Linked DNA regions of Homo sapiens: region 1 is linked to region 2. Evidence: fine-mapped expression QTL. A gene starts in region 2. The other region holds a variant in brackets. All regions are shown on one strand. Distances are between the middles of the regions. Region 1 overlaps LOC124904719 (a long non-coding RNA gene). Region 2 holds the start of DYRK1B (dual specificity tyrosine phosphorylation regulated kinase 1B).

What was found. PIP is the estimated chance that this variant, and not a neighbour inherited with it, causes the effect.
Region 1: its variant is the best candidate, but not a certain one, in a credible set for the expression of DYRK1B in whole blood (INTERVAL, PIP 0.76).

The regions. Positions count from the first base shown.
Region 1 is chr19:39,797,424-39,802,803 of GRCh38, reverse strand. All of the region lies in intron 1 of LOC124904719 (a long non-coding RNA gene), which reads left to right. Among named protein-coding and RNA genes, the nearest start is that of LEUTX, 21 kb to the right of the region's middle. The variant T/G (reference allele first, on the strand shown) is at 2,654.
Region 2 is chr19:39,831,564-39,836,943 of GRCh38, reverse strand. It overlaps DYRK1B (dual specificity tyrosine phosphorylation regulated kinase 1B), which reads left to right and starts at 2,782. Exons shown (of 11, transcript NM_004714.3): 1 at 2,782-2,921; 2 at 4,976-5,139. The coding sequence starts at 5,077. FBL (fibrillarin) reads left to right here. Exons shown (of 9, transcript NM_001436.4): 7 at 276-388; 8 at 2,131-2,276; 9 at 2,382-2,486. The coding sequence ends at 2,406. RefSeq lists silencers at 2,970-3,079, 3,340-3,609.

The sequences.
Region 1 (5,380 bases), 34 kb after region 2:
ACTAGAGGTGACAGGAGAGAGGGAGAATGGCAGGAGATCAGGTCCAAGATAGGCAGAAGATGGTTTGTACAAGGCTTTATATATCATGGAACGAGCTAGGACTTTATCCTAATAGTGGTAAAAATTTTTTAATCATTTTAAAGAATTGTGAAATATAGCATATATGTGTATACCTATACACATACACACGTGCACATTTGTACATATAAATAGAGTCAAAAAATTATACAGTGAACACACATGTAGCCATCACATAGCTAAGAAATGGGACATTACCAGTCAAAGACATCTCTAGCATTTGTGGATCCTGGACAAAGAGTACAAATGGAGGCGCCCTATCTATAGCTTACTCCCTTCTCTTGCCTTCCTTGTTGATGTCCTGTACCCCTAAGGAGTTATTCATGCATGTATGTGGATACCAAGCCTGCACATTGGAGCTTGGTGCATGTACCCCACATCACCTCTTGCCTACCCCTTGGGTTTGGGGTGTGCGTACCAGCATGATCTGTTCTGGGTGTCAGGTAGAAGATGGACTAGGAAGAGGCCCAAACAGTTGCTGGAAGCAGGTTTGGGAACATTTGAGTAGGGAATTCTAAGGAATTGGTACTCTGAGCATGGCCTACAATTGCATTGTTCAAGAAGATAGCCACTTATCTTCTTGAAGTTAAATATGGCTATTTATGCTTAATCGAAATGAAATAAAATTTAAAATTCACTTTCTTAGTTACACTAGCCACATTGCAAGTGCTCAATAGCCACATGTGGCTAGTGGCTATTACATTGGACAGGGCAGATATAAACATTTCTATCACTACAGGTGTTTTACTGGACAATGCTAGTTAGGAAAGAGAAGTGCTATGGGTTCTGGAAGAAACGAAATGTTACCCTTACACTGGAAAAAAAGCGGGCAACAGAAACGTCCAGTGAAAGCAACCAGATGTCAGACTGAGCACACAAAGCCTTCAAAGTAGCCATTATAAATCTGTTCAAATAACTAAAGGAAACCCATTTTTTTAAAAAAGGAAAGGAAAGGTATGGTCAAATAAAAAATATCGCTAAAAAGTTAGACATTATAAAATAAAACCAAATGGAAATCGAGAGCTAAAAGTATAATAACCGAAATGAAAAAAATATACTAGAGAAGCTCAATAGTAGATTTGAATTGACAGAAGAATTAGCAAACTTGAAAGTAGAAATAAGGCTGGGTGTGGTGGCTCACGCCTGTAATCCCAGCACTTTGGGAGGCCAAAGCAGGCGGATCATGAGGTCTGGAGATCGAGGCCATCCTGGCTAACATGGTGAAACCCCACCTCTACTAAAAATACAAAACTTAGCCAGGCATGGTGGCACACGTGTAGTCCCAGCTACTCAGGGGGCTGAGGCAGGAGAATCACTTGAACGCAGTGAGCCGAGATTGCGCCACTGCACTCTAGCCTGGGTGACAGAGCGAGACTCCATCTCAAAAAAAAAAAAAAAAAAAAAAGAAAAAGAAAAGAAAATAGAAATAATGCAATCCAAAGAATGGGGGGAAAGAACAAAGATGAAAAAATAAGTAGAGCCCTAGAGAAATGTGGAACACCATTAAGCAAAACAATAGGAATGGCAGAAGGAGAGGAAAGAGAAAGAAACAGAAAAATTGTTCTAATAAACAGTGGCTTAAAACTTCCTAAGTTTATTGAAAAACAATAAAATACCTATCCAAGAAGCTGAATGAACTTCAAGTAGAATGAACACAGACACACACACACACAGACACATCTTGGTAAGAATACTGACAGCCAAGGACAAGGAAAAAAATTGAAAGCAGAAAAAAGAAAATGCCTTGTCACTTACAAGGGAACCCCCAGTAAGAGTAACAGCTTCTTCTCACGATAAAATTAACACGCTTGTAATAGGGCTGGCACTTTGGGAGGCTGAGGCAGGTGGATCACCTGAGGTTGGGAGTTCGAGACCAGCCTGACCAACATGGAGAAACCCCATCTCTACTAAAAATACAAAATTAGCTGGGCGTGGTGGCGCATGCCTGTAATCCCAGCTACGAGGGAGGCTGAGGCAGGAGAATCGCTTGAACTCGGGAGGCAGAGGTTGCAGTGAGCCGAGATCGCGCCATTGCGCTCCAGCCTGCGCAATAAGAGTGAAACTCGGTCTCAAAAAAAAAAAGTGTATAAAAAAATAATTAAAGCAGTGCATTCCTGGGTTTATAATGTTTGATGCAATATGTATAACATCTAACAAAAAGTGGGAAAAGGCAATAGAGCTTCATAGGAACAATGTTTCTATATCTCACTAGGATTAAGTTAGTATAAATCTGAAGCTCATTTTGATAAGATGTATATGATAAGCCGTAGAGCAACCACGGAGGAAATAATTCAGAAATTAGTGAAAAAATCAGTAAAGAAATTAAAATCCTATATTAGAAAACTTTCACTTAATATAAAAGAAAACATAAAGGAGGAATAGAAGAGCAAAAAAGACATAAGACATAGAAAAGAAAAAGTGAAATGGCAAATGTAAATCTAACTATATCATTAATAACTTTAAAAGTGAATGGATTGAATAAATCAAAAGGCAGAGACTTTCAGACTGTATTAAAAAACAATATCCAATGATATTCTGTGTACAGAAGACAAACTTTAGATTCAAAGATACAAAA[T/G]ATTGAAAGTAATAGAAAGAAAAAAGATATATCATGCAAACAGCAACCACAAGGAAGCTGGAACAGCGATACTAATAATGCAAAATAGACTTTAAAAAACGTTACCAGACATAAGAAATATGTTATGATCTACAGGTCACTGTATCAGGAAGATGTAACAATTATAAACACATAGGCATCCAACAACAGAGCCCCGACATGCATTAAATAAATACTGACAGAAATGAAGAAATACACAATAAGCAACAATATTTGGAGATTTTGATACCCAACTTTAAAAAAATGTTGTAACTATATGAGATGATGAATATATTAATTAGCTTAGTTGTGGTAATCATTTCACAATGTATATCAAAACATCACATTGTACATCTTAAATATATACAATTTTTATTTGTCAGTCATACCTCAAGTCAGGAAAAAAATAACGAATAGAACAATTGGGCAGAAAATCAATAAGGAAATAAAACACTTGAGCAACACTATAAACCAACTAGACCTAGCAGATATCTGTAGAACAGGAGAATTTGTATTCTTCTCAAGTGCACATGGAACACTCTCCAGGATAAACCACATGCTAGGCCATAAACCTTGATAAATTTAAAGGAGTAGAAATACAATGCATACTTTCTGATAACAACATAATGAAATTATATATAAATAAAAGACAGAAATCTGGGGAACTCACAAGTATGTGGAAATTAAACAATGCACTCTCTTTTAAATTTTAATTTAATTTAATTTTACGTTCTGGGATACATGTGCAGGATGTGCAGGTTTTTTACATAGGTAAACCTGAGCCAAGGTGGTTTGCTGCACCTGTTAGCCCATCACCTAGGTATTAAGCCCCGCATGCATTACATTTGCTATCCAACCTGATGCTCTCCCTTCACCCACCCCCAGGCCCCAATGTGTGTTGTTCCCCTCCCTGTGTCCATATGTTCTCATAAACAATGCACTTTTAAATAACCAAGAGGTCAAAGAAGAAATTAAAAGGGACTTAGAAAATACTTTGATATAAATGAAAATGAAGACATAATATACCTTATAACTTGTAGGATACAGCAAAAACAGTGCTTAAAAGAAATCTGATAGATGTATATGCCTATATTAAGGAAGTGATTGAAAATAACCTAAATTTTCACCTTAAGACACTGAAAAAGAAGAGCAAGCTACACATAAAGCAAGTAGAAAAAGAAAATAATAAAAGATTGGAGCAGAAATAAGTGAAATAGAGAATAGAAAAACAATAGAGAAAATCAACCAAACCAAGAGTTGACTCTTTTACAAACCAAAATATTGGCAAAACATTGGCTAGATATACCAGGAAAAAATAGCAGACTGGATTACTAGAATCAAAAATGAAAAAGGGACTTCGAAATGTACAATAAATTATTATTTATTATAATTACCATTTTATGCAATAGATTACTAAAGTTTATTCTTCCTGTCTAACTGAAACTGTACCTTTTGATCAACAGTTTCCCTTTCCCCATCCATCTTCCTCCCCAGCCTCTGGTAATCACCATTTTACTCTCCACTTCTGTGAGTTTGACTCTTTTAGATTCCATGTATCTCACATATATATGGAGTCTATTTGTCTTTCTGTGCCTGGCTTATTTCACTTATCATAAATGTCATCATGAAAAATAAGTATGTGAGGTGACAGATTTATTAATTAGTTTTATTTAACCATTTAACAATATAAACATAGCAAAACATCACATTGTACCCCATAAATATATATAATTACTATTTTTTCAATTAAAATAAAATTTAAATTTTTAAAAAAAGAAATGAAAGAGGAGACATTACTACCAACCTTATAGAAATAAATGCTGTGAGCAACTATTTGCTAATAAACTAGATACTTGAGATGAAAAACAAATTTCTAGAAAGACACAAACTACTGAAACTGAGTCTAAGAGAAATAGGACATCTACATAAATCTATAGCAAGCAAAGAAAGTGAATTAATAATATAAAAACTACCCACAAAGAAAACCCTAGGCCCTTCACCACTGACCCTACCAAACATTTGAAGAAGAATTAATATCAGTTCTTCACAAAGGTTTCCAATAAATAGAAGAGGGAACACTGCCCAACTCATTCTTAAGGCCAGTATTACCCTGGTACCAAGACCAAGCAAAGACACCACAAGAAACCTACAGCCCAATATCTTTTTACCAATACAGATGCAAAAATCCTCAAATAAATACTAGCAAATGGAATCCAGTAATATATAAAAAGAAGTACGTACCATGAAAAATGAGCTTTATCACAGGATGAATGCAAGATTGGTTTTACATCCCCAAATCAATTAATATAGTATATCCTATCAGTTGAATACAAAACAAAAACCACATGATCATCTCAATAGATACAAAACAAGCATTTAGCAAAATCCCATTCATGGTAAAAACTCTCAGGAAGTTAACAATAGAAGAGAACTTCCCCAACCTGACACTGGGGCCTCTACGAAGCACATCTAACATCATACTTAGTGAAAACAGACTGGATGCTTTCCCCCGAAGATCAGGAACAAGGCAAAGGTGTCTGCTTCCACCACTTCACCATTGTACTGGAGGTTCTAGTCAGGATAGGCATGAAAGGAAAAAAAAAAAAAAAAAGCATCCATCCAGATTGAAAGGAAGAAGTAAACTCTTTGCAGATGACATGATCTTGTATATAGAAAAATCCTAAGAAGTCCAGCAAATAACTGTTAGAA
Region 2 (5,380 bases):
GTCTGACTCGTCTCTATGTCCCCCACGCCCGGCCCAGGGCTGGCCACAGAGTAGGTGGCAACCATGGTTTACAAGAAGAGTGGATGAATGATGTGACTGTGGGTTTTGGACTCATCTTGGGACACTGGAGGGAGGGGGACCAGTGGAGGTGGGGAGTGAAACTGGAGGCAGGGAGAATCTCCCAGGAACCTGCTGGTGATGGGCATAGGCCCCATGGGAGGATCTGGGGTGATCCCTGTGACTCCAACTTTTAACTGCTGCTCCTTTCTCCTTAGCAATGGTGGATGTGATCTTTGCTGATGTGGCCCAGCCAGACCAGACCCGGATTGTGGCCCTGAATGCCCACACCTTCCTGCGTAATGGAGGACACTTTGTGATTTCCATTAAGGTGCGGGGTTTGGAAGAGTCTAAGATGGGGTGGCAGTGTTCTAGGGAGGTATCTTCTCTATCTGTATCTGTCAAATAGCCACCCAAAACAGAGGGGCCAAGTCTGCAAAACTATAGCTTTGGATTTAAAGAGGCAGGAGAGTGCAGCGGTCAAGTGCAAAATTGAGTCTGACCATCTGAGTTTAATCCCAGCCTGCTGTGTGACTGAGCAAGTTACTTAACCTATATGCCTCAGTTTCCTCACTTATGAAATAGAAATATTGTCTAGTCTTTTTCAGGGTAGATGACAGGATCAAATTAGTCAATATAATATGAAGTGTTTAGAAAAGATCCTGGCATAGAATAGATACTAGATAAAAGCTAGGTGCATCTTTCACAGCATTTTTATTTGGAAATAATGGAGAACTCTCCCATGCACCCTTCACAAGGTTCACCATTTGTTAGCCTTTTGCTACATTTGTTTTATTATTCTCAACTGCATTATTACTATTATTAAAGAAGAGGAAGTAGAAATAAGCCAAACAATTCCTGGGTATAAAATTTAAGCACTGGCTTTTAGATAAATAGGACTGTTTAAGGCTTCCTGCTTCAAATCCAAAACAAAACTAAAAACTTTTTTTTTTTTTAATTTGAGACAGAGTCTCGCTCTGTCACCAAGGCTGGCGTGAAGTGGTGCAATCTCAGCTCACTGCAACCTCTGCCTCCCAGGTTCAAGCAATTCTTCTGCCTCAGCCTCCTAAGTAGCTGGGACTACAGGCGTGTGCCACCACACCTGGCTAACTTTTATATTTTTAGTGGAGACGGGGTTTTGCCATGTTGCTCAGGCTGCTCTGGAGCTCCTGAGCTCAGGCAATCTGCCTGTCTCAGGCTCCCAAAGTGCTAGGATTACAGGCACGAGCCACTGCACCCAGCCAAAAACTTTCATTAAGCCTTTTATCACATTTCCTAAACCCGAGTGTCTTAGCCCATTTTATGCAGCTATCACAGAATGCTATAGACTGGGTAATTTATTTATTTTTATTTTTATTTTTATTTTTTTGAGATGGAGTCTTACTCTGTCACCAGGTTGGAGTGCAGTGGTACGATCTCGGCTCACTGCAACCTCCAGTTCCTGGGTTCAAGCGATTCTCCTGCGTCAGCTTCCCGAGTAGGTGGGACTACAGGTGTGCGCCACCACACCCGACTAATTTTTGTATTTTTAGTAGAGATAGGGTTTCACCGTGTTGGCCAGGATGGTCTCAATCTCCTGATTTCGTGATTGAGCCACCTCGGCCTCCCAAAGTGCTGGGATTACAGGCGTGAGCCACCACGCCCAGCCTTAGACTGGGTAATTTATAATGAATGGAAATTTATTTGGCTCCCAGTTCCAAAGGCTGGAAAGTCCAAGATTGGAGGTCTGAATCTGGCGAGGGCCTTCTTGCTGTCATCCATTGGCAGAAGGGTGAGAGCAAGATAGAAAGGGGGCATAATCATCCTTTTAATCAGCAACCCACTCTTGTGATAATAGCATTACTCTATTCAGGAAGGCAGAGGCCTCATGACCTGAATCATCTCTCGAAGGTCCCACCTCTCAACTCTTGCATTTAAGGGTTACGTTTCCAACACATGAACTTTGGGGGACACACTAGAACCATAGCACTGAGTTTTACTTGAATTAATAATGAAAACATCTGGTTTAAAGAGCACACAAGAGAAAAACAGCCCAAAGCCCTGTTGTAGACATTAGTCCTTTCTCCTCTTTAGGCCAACTGCATTGACTCCACAGCCTCAGCCGAGGCCGTGTTTGCCTCCGAAGTGAAAAAGATGCAACAGGAGAACATGAAGCCGCAGGAGCAGTTGACCCTTGAGCCATATGAAAGAGACCATGCCGTGGTCGTGGGAGTGTACAGGTGAGCAGGGGCCCAGCAATACACCAAGACAGACATCTCTGTCCCTTGCACCCCGAGTGCCATGATCCTGGGGACCCTCCTTCATCACCTATCTTCCTCTCACAGGCCACCCCCCAAGGTGAAGAACTGAAGTTCAGCGCTGTCAGGATTGCGAGAGATGTGTGTTGATACTGTTGCACGTGTGTTTTTCTATTAAAAGACTCATCCGTCTCCCATGTCTGCTGCTCATTCCTCCCCTTGACCTGCTGACACAGGGAGCACGCACCCTTGGTCAATTTTGCGGGGTTGGGTAAATTCTCACTCGGTCACAGAGCGCATGCTCCGTTTCTAGCTGCCTTTGCGCAGCGGCAGCCTGGATTTCGGTTCTTGGGTGGGATTGGTAGCTCGCTGCGCATGCGTGCAGGTAAGCGGCCATCTCGCGCAGGCGGAGTGTCAGTGTGGGTCACGTGAGGGGAGCGGAGAGGGAGGGATGGGGGCGGAGTCCAGGGCGTGGGGGGGCCGGTTTGTTGTGGTCGCCATTTTGCTGGTTGCATTACTGGGTAATCGGGGCCCTGGCTTGCCGCGTCCGCCGGATACCCTCAGCCAGTGGGCAGGTCTGAGCTCGGGCTCCCCGAGCAGTTTGAGTCCCCTTGCCCGCTCCTTCAGGTAACGGCGCGGGGACGGGTGGGGCGGCAAGCGGTCGCAGGGAGGTGGGCAGGACGGGATCCGCCCTGCTCCCGTCGCCGTGAGACTTAGCACGAGGCCAAGGGAGGAGAGGAGGGGGGTGGCAGGCAGGTGCGGGCCCTGCCTGGCTATTCATAGTTGAATTCCTGGAACCGGCCAAGCCCGAGGAAGCAGTTGCAGGAGGGAGGCTGGGAGGGGGTAGCCGGGCCCCACTCCCGCCCTTTGTTTGGGCTCAGCTCCGCGGGCCGCTTCTTCGTCGCCTAGCAACAGCTGCCCTAGGCTGTGATTGGCTGAGCTCTTGGCACCAGCGACCAATGGTACAGTTGTTGCCATGGCAGGTGCCGATTGCCAAGCTCAGTCGGGCCCCGCCTTCCGGTCTCAGCAGGCCCAGGAGGGCCTCCTGGGTGGGGGGCGGGACGCCGGGTCCCTAGGGGCTGGTGGTCACTCAGGGTGGGGCGTGTCGCCCCTCCCCCGTCCACCTGCTCTACTCTTCCCCCGCGTGCCCTGGGCTGACCCTTGTCCCCTCCTCTCCCCGCCCCCGGTGGCAGTGGCGGCTGCTGTTGTCACCCACCGGGCCTCCTGTCCCGCTTGCCCTCCCCGCCGCGGGGCCGGCCGGGCCAGAGACAGGCGGTCGCCTTTTCAGCGCCGCCACCGCCGCCATGCTGGCCGCTCGCCCACCCCACTGGGGGCCCCACCGCGCCCCAGCCCCCCGTGGGCCCCGCGCCAGCCCTGACCCGGGTAGGGGGTGGGGGCTGGGAGAGATGATCCTGGTGTGGGAGGGCCCCGGAGAAGAGGTGGTTTTTTGGGGGAAGCTCCAAGGGTGGAGGAGTCGTGGAGTGGCAAGGCATGGAATAGGAGAAAGGGATTTGACATGGGGGAGAGAGTGGCCCATGGGGAGAAGATTTTTGCTGTAGCTGACAACTCTGGGAGGAGAGAACCCTATGTGATAACTTGGGGATTTGACTTTGAGGCCCTCTAGGAGTGGACACAGTTGTGGAATGACCCTGGTATAAAGAGGGGTGCCTGGAGAAAGGTCTGTGGTAGGAATATTAGGGTGTGTGTGTGTGTGTAGGGGGGCAAGGAAGCAGTGTAGGGGAGAAAAGGATGATCACTCTAAACTGTGGGAAGAGACACCTCCTCCTTCTCCCATCAGGAGGAGTGGGCCTTGATTGGGATGGGATATTGGAGTAATATGGGGAAGAACCCTGTTGTGGTAGGGGGAATTGGGATATGGTACAGGGAGACTACCTGGAAGGCTGGTTCCTAATATGGAGGACCTGAAATAGGGAAGCGGTCTTGGCATGATATGGAGAGGGTCCCCTAGGAAAATCGTGCCCTGGTGGATGAGAATGCTGTAGAGATAGGACTCTGTTCTATAGAGGTTCTCAGATAACTTTGGTGTGGTTGGGAGGTCCCCAAGGACGCTGATGTGGTTTTAGGGCTGCAGAGGACTCTGCTGTGGTTTGGGAGGGGAAGACTCATGTGGTTTGGGAATCCTAGAGTTCTCTGGGTTGAGGGAATCTACTGAGAAGGATAGATCTTAAAGTATTGGCCCTGGCTGTGCTACGGGCTGAGATCCTGATGTTCAGGGAAGACTACAGAAAGTGGCATCTTGTGTTAGGGGCCCTGGGGAGGGCCACGAGTAGTGAGAAAAGAATGAAGCCTACTCCTCTGCATACTGTCTGTGGTTTCTTTTTTCTTTTCCTCCTCTGAATTATTGGTGTCTTCCTGTCCTCCTTTCCCTGTGATGGCTCATATCGACCCCTGCTTGGCCCCCAATCATTGTCTTTTATGTGTTCTCTTTGTGCTGCCTTAATCATTTACTTGATCATTATTTGTCGAGGGACTGCTGTGCCATCCCCCCCCACCTGGCTACCACTTCTCTGCCCCTTCTCTTCATTGCTATCTGCTGCTCCGTTGTGCCCTTTTCCTCTTCTCTCTGTGCCCTGTCTTTCTCATGTCCACTCTTCCCCGCCTGGCACTATTCACATATCCCCTTGTTCCATGTTGTTTTCCCACTTCCTGTCTGCTCTCAGGTCTCAGCGGCGGTGGCAGCCGAGGTGCAGGATGCAAGAAGGCGCCCCCCGGCCGGGCTCCCGCTCCAGGCCTCGCTCCCCTGCGGCCCTCTGAGCCCACCATGGCCGTCCCACCGGGCCATGGTCCCTTCTCTGGCTTCCCAGGGCCCCAGGAGCACACGCAGGTACGCGTTCAGCTGGCTCCTCACCTGCGTGGTGGTAGGGGGAGGCTGGGGATAGAAAGGTCTCCAGACCAAAAGGTAGTGTGGTTGCCCAAGACATTCTTCTGGGCACATAATGGGTCCCATGGGATTGGAAAATAACAGAGGAGTTTTCAGGCAGAGTCAGGGTTTGGAGAGGCTGGGTTCAAATCCTGACCCAGTGGTTAAATTCCTTAGGTTCTCCATACTTGAGTTGGAGAACTCA